2 separate regions of the Homo sapiens genome follow, and region 2 is linked to region 1. The links come from fine-mapping of genetic effects on gene expression. A gene starts in region 1. The other region holds a variant in brackets. All regions are shown on one strand. Distances are from middle to middle.

Region 1 (8,320 bases):
CCCTTGCCCTCCGTACTAGGAAGCTCACACAGGCACGTAACACCTGCCTGGGGAATCTGTCTCTTGGGCTAAGGTTAAATGTCATTTCCTTAGAAAAGCCATTCCTGGCCCCACTGAATGGACACGTCCCTCTTGTTCCAGGCGCCCAATACCTTCTCCTCACTAGATTTATCCTGACCACACTTAATCAACAGCTGCAGTTTACAGTCTGTCTACTGCACTTGACAATAAGCCTCAAGAGGGAGGAGCAGGCCCACCTCACTGAACTCTATCCCAGACAGCCTGCCTAGCACAACACAGGGAGGCCCCCAAATGGCTCATTCCTCAGCCATCAGCGACTGTGTCCTGAACACCCAGGCAACATGAAGCCAGCTGTAACTTATGAACACGTCACCTCCAGCTGAACCATTCAGAGAAGGCCACTGACTCCCGGTCCACCCCACGTGGGTGGCCAGCACAGGGTTTATTCTTTTCACTTGTTTTTTTGAGAGTCTTGCTCCGTCACCCAGGCTGGAGGCAGTAGTGCAATCACAGCTCACTGCAGCCTCAACCTCCTGGGATCAAGTGATCCTCCCACCTTGGCCTCCCAAGGAGCTGGGATCACAGGCAACAGCCACCACACCTGGCTCCATCACAGGGTTGAAGTAATCACCAGGCACTGAGCCAAGAGTGCCAACCTCACAATCTCCTTATGATGCCACCATGACTACCACAAGGCACAGAGGACGTCAGAAACTTGCCCCAAACCACCCAACTGGCGAGAAGCAGGGACAGGCCTCATACTTGGGTCTTTCTGGCTTCAGCACGCTTTCCTTCCACACACGTGTACTGGCACCCACTAAATGCTGAGCTCTGCTCAACGCTCGGAAGAAGCAGGCCCTGCCTTATCATGCGCACACTCTAGGGGAAAACAAGTAACAGCGAGTAAACAAAGGAACAGACGACATCAGGGTAAAGTGATGGAGAGACTGCGGTGAGGCCACCAGCCTCCATAAGGAGACAGGCCTTGGTGAAGTCGCTGTGCCTCGGTTCTCAGTGGTGAGGTGGCCCATACTTACTCGGTGGGTGGGGCTGGGGCTGCCTCCTTAGCTTTCCGCTTCTTATGCTCGATGTCCCCTCGTTCTGGAACAATATCACCATTTGTCCTTTCCTTGGTTCCTTTCTTATTGTGCTCTGTTCCACTGGCCTTGGTGCGAGGTACTGGCGCCCTCCTGTCCATCTTGGAACCTGAAGGAACAGAGCCCCTGCTGGCCTCCTGGTCTTTTCCTGCCGGCATCTCCTCTCCCTTCACTTGAGGCGAGGTCTCTTTTTTGTTTTGCTGGATAATTTTGGGCTTCTTTTTGGAACCCATCTGAGAGATGACAAGAGGCTTTTCTGGGGCCTGAGATTTTTGTTTCAGCAGCCACTGGGACCCAAAATAAAATACATGCTGCATTTGAATTTGGAAATTACACACAGCAGATTGAAAAAACTTACGTGTGTATGTATATACACACATATACACCAAACACATCTATACAATTCCCATCCGCATCACTGAAATTCATTTTCAAACGGTTTGGAAAAAGCTCTTTTTCATTCTCATGGGTCACTTGTGGTGAAATGCTGTTTCTTTGCTTATCTTATTATAATGCATTTTGCACCTGCTCCTTCATGCATACAAAATGTCAAACTCATTCTACACCTTGGGTACCTGTTGAGTGGCTGGACACCACAGACCACTTCCCTTTTCAGCTTATCTAGAAAGAATTTTGGAGTTAACTTCCCTCACAGCTTGGGCCAACATCCTGCTACACAGAAATCGCTTTTTTTTTTTTTACAAGATTCCCTGGTTTGCTACTGCTGTGAAGATCTCAGGAAGGTGGGGGGTGTCATAAATGAAAAGAAAAGCTTCTGTCAAACTGGAGTGGCTGAAGAACTGCTAGCAGCCACACACCTTGGCTGTCACCCAAGCAGAGGCTCCTGTAGTCTTAGAGCCCAGCTTCCTCCCTGTGTTCAAATCCCCAGTGGGAGTGGGCGCCACCACAGTGCGATGATGAGGCGGGTGCTACTTACCTGTTCTGTGATAGGTAAAGAACTGAAGGGCTGACTTTCTTGGATGAATTAGAAAACACTCCAAAGTTTCCCTATAGCACACATCCCTTCCATTCACTTATTTTGCTTTTCTTTCTTGGGAGAAGGAAGAAGAGTTGGTGTTCAAGAAATCCCACAGAACCCTGGGGCTGCCCACGGGAATTTGACTGGTCCTGTGTGTTAAGACAGGAATGTCTGCACTGAGATACTGTGCAGAGTATTAGGAGGTTCAAGAAGCGCTCGGGGAGGCTGAGGTGGGAGGATTGCTTGAGGTCAGGAGTTGAAGACCAGCCTGGGCAACAAAGTGAAACCCCATCTGTATTAGTTCATTGTGCACTGCTATAAAGGAATACCTGTGTTTGGTAATTTATAAAGAAAAAACGTTTATGTAGCTCATGGTTTTGCAGGTTGTACAAGAAGCATGGTGCCAGCATCTGCTTCTGGTGAGGCCGAAGGAAGCTTCCCATCATGGTGTAAGGTGAAGGGGGAGCAGGTGTGTTGCGTGGTGAGAGAGCAAGCAAAAAAGGTGCTAGGCTCTTTTTAAACAACCAGCTCTCAAATGAACCAGCAGAGTGAGAACTTACTCGTTACTGAGGGGAGGGCACCAAGTCATTCATGAGGGATCTACCCCCATGACCCAATACCTCCTATGGGCCCCATCTCCACCACTGGGGATCACATTTCTTTTTTAAAAAAACTACTTTTTACTTTTATTTAGAGATGGAATCTCACCATGTTGCCCAGGCTGGACTTGAACTCCTGAGCTCAAGTGATCCTCCTGCCTGGGCCTCCCAAAGTGCTGGGATTACACGTGTGGGCTACTCGGGAGGCTGAGGCAGGAGAATCACTGGAGCCCAGGCAGCAGTGAGCTATGATCCTAACAGGAGGTAGCTCCAAGGGAGCTCCAAGGGATGTGGTAAGAATGTATGAGTGACGCACGTGGAAGAGTGTCTAGGAGAGAGCAGGCAACCTCTACAGAAGTGCAGGTCACTAGGGAGACAGCAGGTACAACACAGCCTTAAAAGCATGGACTCCAGAGTCAGCCACCTGGTTCCCAGCCGCAATCTTAGATGATCTATTTAAACTTTTCCAGCCTATTTCCTCATCTGTACAATAGCGATGATGGAAGTGTCCACCTCACAGTCTTATTGTGGGGATTGCAACACGCATGGCATAGAGCACATGGCAGAGTGCACATTTTTAGGAGCTCAATTAGTATTTACTTCAAGACCGTAAGTGTCGCTAGAACCCCATCACATGTCTGCTATCTGCTTTTCACTTCTACACAGGAATCTTCTTTCTCCCTGTCTTGCTACACAGACCAGTGTGTTCTTTCGTTGTTGTTGTTTGAGATGGAGTCTCGCTCTGTCGCCCAGGCTGGAGTGCAGTGGCGCGATTTCGGCTTACTACTGCCTCTGCCTCCCGGGTTCAAGCGATTCTTCTGCCTCAGGCTCCCCGAGTAGCTGCGACTACCGGCGCGCGCCATCACGCCCGGCTAATATTTTTTGTACTTTTTTAGTAGACACGGGGTTTCACCATGTTGGCCGGGCTGGTCTTGAACTCTTGACCTCAGGGGATCTGCCCGCCTCGGCCTCCCAAAGTGCTGGGATCACAGGCGTGAGGCCCCGCGCCCGGCCTGGTTTCGGGATTTTAAGCTAAATTTCTCTTTGTAAAATCCATTCTAGTTAGTTCATTATGCAAAAGGTACAAGGGTTTATCTTTGCTTTTTTGTACTTGAAATAATTCTTTCATCAATTTCTTTCAAGCAAACAAGTTCGAGACCTCCCTCAACAGGCCACCTTTCTTGTGAAAAGCTGTTTACAAGATTTCGATTCAAATCTGCCTTTACAGGTCTTTTGGGGCTACCCAAGTCTTTCCCTCCGTCGCGTTCTGCGGGAATGAGCTGCGCAGCGCTCCGCCCGGGCCCCCTCAAGCCTCACCTCTTGCAGCGCCTTCCAGTTTTGAGAAAAGTCTTCTGGTGCCTTTGGAGGTCGCACCACAGCACCGGGGCCGCTTGCTGGCTTCTTGCTTACTTCCCGCGCCTTGCTTTTCCAAAACCTTTTTTTCTTCTTGTTTTTCTTCCGAGTGAGCGTCTTGACAGGACCCGGCTTAGCCACGGGGCTGCTCGGGGCGCGCTTGGAGGCGGGGACCTTCGCCTTCCCCATCCTGCTGCCGTCCAGCGCCTGGGCCGGCGGCCACCCGAGACCCCGGCCTCCCCGGGCCCGGCGCCCTGGCAGCACAAGCGCCTGCCCAGGCCAGGCCGAAACACACCCACCGCAGGGACCCCGTCCAGGAAAAGACTCCGGAAGAGACCCCGCACGCGTTGCGCATACCTCAGCACGCACGCTCCAGTCCCCGGAAGCGCTCGTCTCTCCACAACCGGCTGGAAACCGGATCCCTGCCTCTGGTTCCGCGCAGCCTGGGCGGTTCACCCGCACGGGACTTGGGCCGCCGCCTTAGCCAGCGGCATCCGGGGTCATCGACCTCGAGTTTGACTGGGGCAAGCCGAGGACCTCCCCAAGATCCGGGATGGGGATGAGAGATGCGAACGCCGGAAGGGAACTGGGGGGCCGCTGTGTGTGTAGCACCTGGTAGGGCAGCTGAGCTGGGGGCACTGGGCGGTGGGGCTAGTGAGAGCCGGGCTAGGTCGCTCGCCTGCGTCCTGGACTCTCGAGCCTTTCCCGCCTTGGGCTGCTCCTTGCTCAGCCTCACAGCGGCTCATCTTCCACGTACAGTGGGGAAACTGAGGCCCAGGCACCGGGAGGAGTTCCTGCCAGTTCACTCTGTAGCAGGACGAGCCGCAGACAAGAACCCCTCAGACACCGAATTGTAGAAGGAAAGGGCTTTATTTAGTGGGGAGCATCGGCAGACTCACGTCTCCAAAAACCGAGCTCTCTGAGTGAGCAATTCCTGTCCCTTTTAAGGGCTTACAACCCTAAGGGGGTCTGTGTGAGAGGGTCGTGATCGATTGAGCAAGCAGGGGGTACGTGACTGGGGGCTGCATGCACCGGTAATCAGAACGCAACAGAACAGGACAGGGATTTTCACAATGCTTTTCCATACAATGTCTGAAATCTATAGATAACATAACCGGTTAGGTCAAGGATTGATCTTTAACCAGGCCCAGGGCGCGGCGCCGGGCTGTCTGCCTGTGGATTTTATTTCTGCCTTTTAGTTTTTACTTCTTTATTTGGAAGCAGAAATTGGGCATAAGACAATATGAGGGGTGGTCTCCTCCCTTACTTCTGCCGCCTGGGTTCAAGCGATTCTCCTGCCTCAGCCTCCTGAGTAGCTGGGACTATAGGTGCACGCCACCACTCTCTGCCAATTTTTGTATTTTTAGTAGACCTGGGGTTTCGCCACGTTGGCCAGGCTGTCTTGAACTCCTGACCTCCAGTGATCCATCCGCCTCGGCCTCCCAAAGCGCTGGGATTACAGGTGTGAGCCACCGTGCCCGGCCGGGAGTGGGTAGATTTGATGTGCGTGTGTAACAGGCAGAGGTTGATGGAGTAACAGGGAAGTGAGGCTCCTAGGATTTTGGTCTGAGCAATTGGGTGTGGCCATTTATCATCTCAATAAATGTCTGCGGGGAGCAGGGTGAAGTATGGGGGTGGAGCCATGAGCTCCTTTTCACACTTGCTGAGTTTGAACGGGCCGTCAGTCACCAAGGAGAGACGTCTAATCAGCAGCAGGATATAAGATTCCTAAGCTTAGGGAAGGGTCAGTGCTGGAGATGTAATTTGGAAATCGTCAGCACATAATTAGTGTTGAAACATGAACCTGGGTTAGTTCATCCAAAGAGAGAGTACCAATATAGGGAGTGAAGGGTTAAGACCAGATAGCAGGTGCTGGGGGCTCTCCAGGGGCGAAGCAGCAGAGGAGGCTGAGGGGGAGCAGTCAGTGCAGTGGGAGGAGAAGCGGATGTGAGTGGCATCAGAGAATCCAGGGGGAGAATAAACCACATCAGATGCTGCTGAGAGGCTGAGAAGGACGAGGACAGAGAGATGGGAACCAGATATGGCACTGAGATTGTCAGCAAGTCCACCGAAAAGGGTTTTCTTTTTTTTTGTTTGTTTTGAGACGGAGTCTTGCTCTGCTGCCCAGGCTGGAGTGCAGTGGCGTGATATCGGCTCACCACAATCTCCACCTCCCGGGTTCAAGCGATTCTCCTGCCTCAGCCTCCTGGGTAGCTGGAACTACAGGTGCACGCCACCATGCCCAGCTAATTTTTTTTTTTTTTTTGAGACGAAGTTATGCTCTTGTCGCCCAGGCTGGAGTGCAATGGCGCAATCTCGGCTCACCGCAACCTCCACCTCCCGGGTTCAAGTGATTCTTCTGCCTCAGCCTCCCGAGTAGCTGGGATTACAGGCATGTGCCACCACGCCCGGCTAATTTTGTACTTTTAGTAGAGATGGGGTTTCTCCATGTTGGCCAGGCTGGTATGGATCTCCAGACATCAGGTGATCCTCTCGCCTCAGCCTCCCAAAGTGTTGGGATTACAGGCGTGAGCCACCGCACCTAGCCTAATTTTTGTATTTTTGAAAAGAGACGGGGTTTCACTATGCTGGCCAGGCTGATCTCGAACTCCTGACCTCATGATCCGCGTGCCTCGTGATCCACCTGCCTCGGCCTCCCAAAGTGCTGGGATTAAAGGCGTGAGCCACCACACCTGGCCCAGGTTTTCTTTTTAAAAAAGGAAAAAAACTTTGTTCCAGCAGTTTGTAAACCAGGGCAATGCAGCCTTCTGTACAAAGGTGCATTCCAGGGAACAAAGAGAACAAAGAAAGAGGTCGTCTTTTGTAGAGAACTTCCTGCCCAGGTTCCCACTTTGGTCCACTTATGCAAATGAGGAAGGCACACTTGCTTAGTTCTGATTGGTTAATACTTGCTGAGTTCAGATTGGTCGATGCAGGTCACAGTCGATGGGTTGATTCTGGCGGCATAAACAGGAACAGATAGCTGTGAAACCATCCCAGAGTTAAGTGAGAGTGGGGGCTTTCCAGGAACGCAGAATGTGTGTGTGACCCTAGTCAGCAAATGGCTGCTAGGTCCTACTTTGAATTTAGGCCCAGTTAGTAACTTGGGATCCATCAAGAAGGATTGGCTCTTTCAGGGTTCACAAAGTTATTGGTGACCTTTTAAAGATCAATTTCAATGGTATGTGGGAATTGAAGGCAAGGAAGTGGAGATAGCCACTGAAAATAATGTTTCTAAGTTCTTAAAGACAGCCAGAAACAGGGCTATGGCAGGAGGACAGTGTGGGTCAAGGGAAGGTTGTTGATTGTAATCAAGAGACACCAGAGTGTCTGGGCTTGGTGGCTCATGCCTGTAATCCCAGCACTTTGGGAGGCCGAGGCAGTCAGCTCACCTGAGGTCAGGAGTTTGAGACCAGCTTGGCCAACATGGCGAAACCCCACCTCTACTAAAAATACAAAAACTAGCCAGGCGTGATGGCGGGTGCCTGTAATCCCAGCCACAAGGGAGGCTGAGGCAGGAGAATCACTTGAACCTGGGTGGCGGAGGTTGCAGTGAGCCGAGATCGTGCCACTGCACTCCAGCCTGGGTGACACAGCAAGACTCTGTCTCAAAAAACAAACAAAAACCAAAAAGAGACAGGAGAGTCATTCATGCTGATGGAGTGAGCCAGGTACCAGGATCTCGATATCTAAGCATGCCCCCTTCTCCAACAGCCTCCTTACCTTCCTGCATGAAAGCACACCCTTCCCTCCAGTCCCCCATTCCTTTATTCTGCTGTATTTTTCTCCATAACACTTACCACCTTTGAACATACTACATATACAACATGTGTCTGTCTAGCAACTTTGCTGTCTGGCTCTCTTCCCTAGAATTTAAGCTGTGAGAGGCCGAGGCTGCTGTCTGCCTGGCTTGGGGCTGCTTTCCTGGTGTCTAGCACAGAGCCTGGCCTGTTTCAGGGGCTCAGTGAAACATTTGTTGGCTGAAGGAATGAATGAATGGCTCTAGCAGAGGGGCAGAAACTAACGATGCAGGAGGAGAGAGCTGGGAAGGGATCCAGAGCCAGGGCCTGGCAGGAAGTGTAGGTGTGTCCTCCCTGATCGCAGAGGAGGAGAGAGGCTGCACTTTGAGGGGTGGAAAGACAAGGTGAATCCCCCTGCTGGTCATCAGCTTGTGCGGCTCTGTGGGTGTAAAAGAGTGGTTTGGAGCATGTGAAGTGAGTCTTCCAGGAGATGAAGGGGATTGCCAGGCCGTTTGTGATGATGCTGAGATC
Region 2 (8,320 bases), 71 kb before region 1:
TCAGCTAGCCCTTCCCATGCCCGCAGCTGTGACAATCCACGCTCGCCTCTTTCTAACCTGCAGGCAGGGGCCCTGGCTTTCCCGCGGCCTGCCTCGCCCCTGGCTTCCTCCCTTGCTCCTGCCCTCAGTGTTCAGTCTCAGAACCGTCCTGGGCACAGAGTGGCATCCCGAGGAACGCAAAGGAGAGGCAGAGCCAGAAAGAGCAACTAACAAGCAGAGAGGGGGCAGGCGAGCACAGAGGCGCAGCTCATGCGGAACAGGGCAGGGCAGGGCAGGGAGCGGAGCGCCCTTTGGGGGACCAGCAAGAAGGGGCAGAGGAAACTCGGCCAGGACCTGGTCGCTTAAAGGCAATGTACAGAGGAGGGCAACTGCTTCTGCCACAGGGGCTGTGTGAGGCCCCCCAGGGGGCGCTGGTGTGGACAGGAGGCCTGCGGGAGGGGACACAGGCTGGCCTGGAAGCCCCGCTGGGTGAAGCTGAGGGACTGTTGGGGGAGGGCATGGGAAGCCTGGCACAGATGTCCTGGGTTTGCGCCCTGCTCTGCTGCAGGGCCGTGAGCAGGTTCCCTCTCTCCCTGCCCCAAGGCAAGGCAGGCAGGCTGAATTACAGGCCCACAGCTGCTCTGTGCAGGGGCCCTCAGGGACGGTGGCTGCCTCAAAGAGACCGACAAACTGAACAGCTGTGGAAGGAGATGCCCAGAAGGGTCTGAAACACCCCAGGACCCCTCTCAGCCACCCTAGTGTGGAGGAAATGCTGCCTCATGTCTGCTGAGTTAATGAGTACTGGGGACCAAAGATTCCCTCAGAACCCCCTGGAAAACTCTAGGACTGCTGCAGCTCAGCAGTGCCACTGAGCCCAGGGCAGGGAAACCAAGCCCCAGGTCATGCTGGCTCTGGATATCTGTGGCTCCCAGCATGGCCAATGGGCAGAAAGGAGTATTTTAAATCCACCACCAGGAAGGAAAGGTTTGTCCAGGAGAAGGCACAAGATGGACATGGACTCTGCATCTGCTGGACTGAATCTTGATTTTCTAAGCTAATGGGGCAGAGTGGAAGGCCTCCCTGTCTCCAGCCTAAGTTTCCCCCTAAGTAAATGATACGTAGACTCTGATTTCTCAGGGCCCCTCCAGCTCAAACGGTCGAAGGTTTCAGCTTCTTACGGAGCCCCACAAGGGTCAGGATGATGGGTTTTGACCCTTCTGCATCCCTGGGACCCAGCACGGGGCCTGGCACGTAGGTTGGCTCCAGCTCCGTGGATAAGGCTGAGTGGGTCACGAATTGGAGCTCCAATGGCTTTCAAGGCCATTCCCTGCCTGGGCTTCATCCCCCACATTCCCATGACTGTCCCTGCCTCCACACTGGGGTTTGGTGACATCCACATGGAATTGCATCCCTGGTGCCCTGGACATAGGTGTGGACCTGACTGCCCAAAAAAGGCTGGCCCAGCCTTGGCTGAAATCTCTACATATGGATTCAGAAGGTAACAGGAGCAGCACAGCCCCAGAACGCACTGCCCGAGGAGGAAGGCTCTCGGAAGAGGGCCTGCGGGGGATACAGCCAGGCGCCTCCCTTCTCCAGACTCGGCCTATCCGACTGGCGTGAGTCCTGTGGTTTTCATCACATTGCACTGTGGGAAAGGCCCAGGGCCCTGGCATATGGATGTGAATTGTCTGTCGGTCAAACGCTCTGGCCAGGAGCTCTGCTCTGAAACCCAGGCATGGCTCCACTGCTAAGACCAGCAAGAATTTGAAAAAGCAGAAGGCAGCCCTGCCTGCTGGCCAGGCCCAGGTAGGCAGGCTCCCGCTCTGCATGGGGAGTCCAGCGCTATTTATACCTGGACGAGTAATACTCCTCCTCCAGCTCGTAGAGGTCAATGGAGATCTCGTCTCGCAGCGTGATGAGCTTCCGGTCGCACTCCTCCTGCAGTGTGCGCAGCTGCTGGTTGCGCTGGTCAATGGCCTCGTTCACGGAGGGGAAGTCATTGAGGATCAGGAACTGCTTGAGGTCGGACACCAGCTTCATCAGGGACTCGCCGGCTCGGACCTGTGGCCATCAGAACCAGGGCGGGCACAGGGTGAGGGGGGACAGCGGCCTTGCCTACAAGTAGCTGATGCTGGGCAAGGGATGGCCTCTCTAGGAGCCTCAGCTTCCTCATCTGCAAAGTGGGACTCTACCCCTGACCTCCACAGGTTCATGTGTGAGAATTAAGTGAGAAAACTGGGATGTCAGTTCTGCAGGGCAGGCCCTCCCCTCTCGTCAGCCTCTGGCTTCCACTCCTGCAGGACTGGCCTCCAGTCCAATTATGCAGGTGTACATTCTGCTCATGAAAAACTCAAACCCCACAGATAAAACTGCGATCCCATTTTGCCTCCTGCCCCGGGGTAGGATTAACATGGCTGCCAGCTGGGCAGAGCTCCTGTGGGACCTTTTTCCATGCATTTTGAGCCCTGGACGTGCACCTGCGGAATTATCTGCTTGCTGTGTTTCTCCTGTGATCCGAAGGAATCCAATGGCGCCTACAGTTCCATTCGGCTGTTTGTCTTTTCACTCACAACTGACCTTAGGAACTCCTGAGTTAGCAGGAAGGGCTACCCTCTTTCTGGCCACTGCACGGCTACAGGACGGGCATGGGTGGCTCTCTGCCCAGCCCTCCTCCAAGTGCCCCACGTGAGGACAGTCTCCTGAGAAATGATTTGCCCCCACCTCATTCTTTAAAGCTGCCGAGTGGTGAAACCAAAGCATCTCTACATTTGCCTCCTTCTGCTCCTTCTCGGGGGAAGAAGACCAGACCAGCCCCAGAGCCCCCTCCACTCCACCCAGGAAACCTGAGGGGACTGATGCTCTTGGAGCCCAGGCCGTGCCCTCCACCCTGGCCACTCACGATGTTGGCGGCTCGCACATGCATCTCGTAATTGTCCTGTTCACCCTGAGTGGCCCGTGACACCTGCGTCTCGTCCTCAATCTGGGGGAAAACAAGAAAACCTAGAAATCAACCCAGCCAAGGCATCCCCACCCCTGGCCCGGCCCAGCCCAGCTTACGGTAACTGTCATCTACCCAGGATGTCCACACTGGCCACAACCTGTCTGTGGTGCCATCTACAGACCTAAGCGCTGTCAGCCAGACCTCTGACAAGGTTCAATTCCACCCTCTCTTGTTCTGGCCATGGGAGACAACATGCACCTTTGCTCAAGACAAATAGAGGCAACCCACGCTGCTTGCTGTACTAGGTGCAGGGATGGGGGCTTATCTTGGCCCGGTCTTTTTGGGCTGTGGGAGCCCTGTTTGGTAGGAACCGTTGTCACTTGCTTGGCATTTGGTAAACTGTTGGATGAGTGAAGGGATGATTTAAGTTTTTTTTCGCGACCATTTCCTGATCACTTCCCAGGTGCCAGGCTGTGTCATGCACTTGACCACCATTAACCCATGCCAGTTTCACAGAAGCCTGGCCTGCCACCCCTGGTGTATAGGTGGCCAAGCGAGGCTGGATGGGGCTTCCCGGCAGGCCTTGCAAAGGCTCAGTTCGGGGTGGGTGTCAGGTACCCTCAGTGGTTAAGACCCAGACTTCGTGGGTTCAAATCCTGGCTCAGCCAGTTGTGAGCTGAGTGACCTTGGGCAAGTCACTAAGTCTCCTGGGCCTGGGTTTCCTCCTGAAATGAAGAGGACAACAGTGCCCACCTCACAGAGTCCTCATGAAGATTCAGCAGAACA[G/A]GCACAGATAACCTCACAACGTGGCTTGATACATGGCAAGCACTAAGTACATGCTAGCTTCCATCCTCATCATCATCGCTTATGGAGCCTGCCAGGTCTGCAGCAGCCAGGAGGGATCCAGCCCAATCTGATGCAGCTGTAGCTGCAGTGGTCAGCAGGCTTGCAGGCCCCAGTGCTGACCGCTCCACCTGCCTGGAGGCCCCCCCCCACTTCTCCCCTCAGTCTGCTTTTCTCCTGCTCATTGGCTGTGTGCCAGGCCCCGAGGTAACTGTTTTACACAGATAAACTCACCAGTCATCACAAGGACCCCACCATGCAGGAGAAACTGAGGCACTAAAAAGTGAAATCTCCATCCAAATCCATACTGTTAGTAAGGGCTGGACGTGCCATTATTTGGTTTGCTTATCTACTGACCAGCTCCCTGTGCACTGGGTGCTTCCTGCCTAGAACACTATTCACTCGCGCTGCTCAGCCCCTGGCCTCTCCTGTCTCCACCCCTTCTCAGACTCTGCTCCCCTTGGTGGGCCACCCCACCCCCACCTTGGCGGTCTTGATGATCTCGGTGAAGTTGTCCATGATGGACTTAATGTCGTCCTTCAGCCGCTTGTTGTAGGACTGCAGCAGCGTCTCCTTGCTCTGGGGCAGGGCTCTCTGCTGGGCCATGGCCGAGCCTCAAGCAGCGCAGCGGGGAGACCTGGGACCTAGAGTGCAGCACAGACCTCTGAGTGCAGGCAGAGTCTACCCCAGCCACCCTCTATGCCCCAACCTTAGCAGAACACGCAGATTTCTGGGGATTCCCTTTCTGCCAAATAAAGTCAATCACTGAAACACAGATGAACTCATTCCATCAGCAGACACCGCAGGGGGTGCCAGGACTGGCCCCGCCTTTGCCAGAGCAAGCTCATCCTGGAACTCCTGGCCAGCCCTCCAAGCCCTGTCCAGGGCTCCAGTCCAGACTTCACGTCCAGGCCCACAGCGTGTCCCAGGGAGCCCTGCAAACTCAACACCAGCTCCCCGTCCCCAGCCCTTGGCTTAACTTCTTAGCCCGCCGCCACCTTCGCCACGCCCTCCCATCCGAAGAGTCCTTCCAATTCGACCCCTCTGCACCGCCTACATCCACGCTTTCCTTCCACTCCCACTCAGGCTGCCCCGCTCCAGACCTCATCCCTGCACTGCGGGCCCCGCTCCCTCCAGTCTCTGCGCGGCAGGGAAGAGGTCCTAAAAAGTGGTCATTCCAACCGGGCGCGGTGGCTCACGCCTGTAATCCCAGCACTTTGGGAGGCCGAGGCAGGGATCACCTGAGGTCAGGAGTTTGAGACTAGCCTGACCAACATGGTGAAACCCCAACTCTACTAAAAATACAAAAATTAGCCGGGCGTGATGGCAGGCGCCTGTAATCCCAGCTACTCGGGAGGCTGAGGCAGGAGAATCGCTTGAACCCGGGAAGCACAGGTCGCAGTGAGCCGAGATCGCGCCACTGCACTCCAGCCTGGGCGACAGGGGGAGACTACGTCTCCAAAAGAAAAAAAAAAGGGGGGTAATTCCACTCCCTCGCTTAACATCCCTCATGGTTCCCCGGTGCGCCGGGACAAGGGGCTCAAGTTCCGCGCCGCGCCTCTCGGCCTCTGCCCTCCAGCCGCACTGGACGGCCTCGGCGCTGGAGTTGCCTGGCCCTGGGGCCGGGCCTTTGCGCGCGGTGCTCAGGGAGGGCCCGGGGCCCCCTAGGTTCGGAGTCTGGCGCACGACCGAGCGGACTCCTGGACGCACTCGCATTGTTTGTGCCCATTTTTGGCGGGGTGTGGGAAATAAGTCACACGCAGGAAAGGGGATCTCCGACCCCAGCGCCTACGCACCCACCCACCCCCACTCCCGCCCACACACCCACCCCCCCTCCATCCCCACCCCCCACCACACCCTCATACCCGCCCCAGCGCCCGCACACCAGACGCCGCGTCCGCCGGGTCGGCCTAGGGCGGGGTGGTCAAGTGCCTCTGCGACCCGCACTTTCCCGCGTCTCTCCCACGGCCTGGCCCTCCCGCCGCAGTCTCTCTTCCCCGCCGCGCCGCGGTCCGAAAACCTAGTCAGCCGCCGCAGCCTCTCGGCCCCGCCTCGATTTTTAGCTTTATAGGAATGCTGTTGCTTTAAATCCGAAATCCCGTGCCGGTATCAACTCTCGCGATCTCCGAGGCCGCATACATATTACCCACAATTCCCTTTCCTTTCTCTCTCCTCCCGCCGCCCAAGATGGTGAGTGAGCTGTAGTTCCGTGGCACTATAGCCAGGTTCCGGCTGTATCCGCTGCCATCCTCCTCCAGGCGCGGCCTCGGAGGGCCTCCTGCTCCTCCTGGCGCTAGGAGAGCCCCACTCGGTGTGGCACGGAGACACCGAGGTGGATTAGAGCCCCACTTGGTGTGGCACGGAGACATTGAGATGGACTAGAGCCCCGGGCGGCCGAGAGCGGAATGCGTTGTTCCCGGTGTCGCAGGGCTGGGTGTCGCAGGCCTGGAGCACCGCAGTGCGGGGCTCGGAGCCCTAGCGTCTCTCGGGCTTGCTGGGGGCCGCTCCAGAGGCCTTGTGAGCGACGAGTTCTGAGCCCGCCCCTGTTGCTTCTAGAGCCTGTGGGGCCGCGACTCAGAGGAGTCATGAGTCCGGGGTGTCTCCTGGGTGGGCGACGCGAAGAGAGCGTGGTCTCGGGCTTAGCCTTGCTCTGGCCACTCGGGGTTCCCGGGGCTGCATGCTTGTGCGGCTGAATGTGAGATGCTCCTGTCGAGGGGTGGTGCTGGGGGGTTGCAGAAAGCTGCTCGCCAGCTTAGTTCAGGCAGGTGCTGTCAGCGTCCCTTGTTTTGGAGGAGCCAGCCTGAGCCCTACCCCCGACGAAGCGAGTGGAGGCGGCGGTTTAACTGACGTTTTCTTTCTGCCCAGCCGAAAGGAAAGAAGGCCAAGGGAAAGAAGGTGGCTCCGGCCCCAGCTGTCGTGAAGAAGCAGGAGGCTAAGAAAGTGGTGAATCCCCTGTTTGAGAAAAGGCCTAAGAATTTTGGCATTGGTAAGTAACAAACGGCAGAATGAAAACGGTCTATGTTTTTCTCAAGGGAAGGTGGTAATTGGGTTGTGTTGTATCTTGTAGGTTTTAGTGGGTGTAAAGTGGTCGCAGTCCTTAATTTGTGTCTCTTAGAGACGGGGGCAATGATACATGCTTCTTGCTTTCATTGGGAGTTGCTGAGCGAGCATTCAGCTCAATATGGTAGTGGCCTTGAATTCAGCTTAGCCATCTGGAAACAAGTACAGTAGCAGTGTCGCAGCGAGGTACTAGGACTGCAATTCTGCTGTACTTCGTGGCACCTTGGCTTCTTGTTAGATGAGGAAAAGCATCGTGCTCTTTGTTCTCAGGTGTTTGTGTGCAGATGATGTAAAAGAATATTTGCTATCTGAGAGATGGTGATGACATTTTAAACCACCAAGATCGCTGATGCACCAACACCCTTCCTAGTGGCCCCAGACATGAACTTGACATGGAATTTGAGCCTCACTCGGTGTCACCCTTTACTTCTCAGGACAGGACATCCAGCCCAAAAGAGACCTCACCCGCTTTGTGAAATGGCCCCGCTATATCAGGTTGCAGCGGCAGAGAGCCATCCTCTATAAGCGGCTGAAAGTGCCTCCTGCGATTAACCAGTTCACCCAGGCCCTGGACCGCCAAACAGGTGAGGTTCTGTGGCGTGGAAAGGAGTTTCTCAGGCAAGGATTCCTTATTTCATCCAGAACATGAGGGGGATGGTCTTAGGCTTCTTGAACTGCAGTTGTCATTAAATTATAGTCATATAGCAGGACCGCAGTCCAGCATTTGTTATTAAGTGTTAAGTGACAAGGATTAGAACCTTGACTCCAAGCCTAAACTGAAGAGTGTTTTTCCAGCTACTCAGCTGCTTAAGCTGGCCCACAAGTACAGACCAGAGACAAAGCAAGAGAAGAAGCAGAGACTGTTGGCCCGGGCCGAGAAGAAGGCTGCTGGCAAAGGGGACGTCCCAACGAAGAGACCACCTGTCCTTCGAGCAGGTGAGTAGGCCCCACCTTAGGGTGAACACTGGGGGCGGGCTGTTGCAGTGATGTAAAATTTCTTGGCCTGAAATTACTGTGAAGAGTAAAACCGAGCTTTTTAACACTGAGTCAGCAGCTGAGCCCAGCAGCTTCTTGTGACTAGAGCAGGCCCTGTGAGTGCTCACAAAGTGGTTGTGTGTTCTAGGAGTTAACACCGTCACCACCTTGGTGGAGAACAAGAAAGCTCAGCTGGTGGTGATTGCACACGACGTGGATCCCATCGAGGTGCGTTTGCCTGTTGACTGCTAACCCAAGGGCTTCTGGCAGTACCAGGAAGAGAGAGTAGACCTAATGCCAAGTCAGTGATGGGACCGAAGTGGGTGAGGGCAGTACTGACACAGATCCAACACATGCGTGGCTCTTGCAATGATGTGAATCTCTCACTGAATTCAACCTTGAAGTGCGAATCCATGAGCTTTTTAACCCTGAGCAATTGTTACAAGCTAACTGAAATTTGCTGCTTTTGGTCAAAATACAGTCTTCAGCTAATGCTTTCTTCCAGCTGGTTGTCTTCTTGCC

Evidence for each region.
Region 2: its variant is fine-mapped to the expression of REXO4 in whole blood (INTERVAL, PIP 0.92).

The regions. Positions count from the first base shown.
Region 1 is chr9:133,413,607-133,421,926 of GRCh38, forward strand. REXO4 (REX4 homolog, 3'-5' exonuclease) reads right to left here and starts at 4,404. Exons shown (of 8, transcript NM_020385.4): 1 at 4,014-4,404; 2 at 1,059-1,405. The coding sequence starts at 4,238. It also overlaps a transcript of ADAMTS13 not described here. RefSeq lists a silencer at 4,149-4,388 and enhancers at 4,499-4,718, 7,916-8,055, 8,286-8,320.
Region 2 is chr9:133,342,294-133,350,613 of GRCh38, forward strand. MED22 (mediator complex subunit 22) reads right to left here and starts at 5,838. Exons shown (of 5, transcript NM_133640.5): 1 at 5,629-5,838; 2 at 4,247-4,407; 3 at 2,879-2,959; 4 at 1,832-2,040. The coding sequence starts at 4,369. RPL7A (ribosomal protein L7a) reads left to right here and starts at 5,925. Exons shown (of 8, transcript NM_000972.3): 1 at 5,925-5,953; 2 at 6,629-6,749; 3 at 7,258-7,407; 4 at 7,619-7,759; 5 at 7,947-8,026; 6 at 8,304-8,320. The coding sequence starts at 5,951. SNORD24 (small nucleolar RNA, C/D box 24) reads left to right here and starts at 7,103; the gene lies at 7,103-7,177. It overlaps SNORD36B (small nucleolar RNA, C/D box 36B), which reads left to right and starts at 7,801; the gene lies at 7,801-7,871. It also overlaps SNORD36A. RefSeq lists enhancers at 1-247, 3,411-3,914, 3,915-4,416, 5,721-6,015, 5,877-6,346. The variant G/A (reference allele first, on the strand shown) is at 3,707.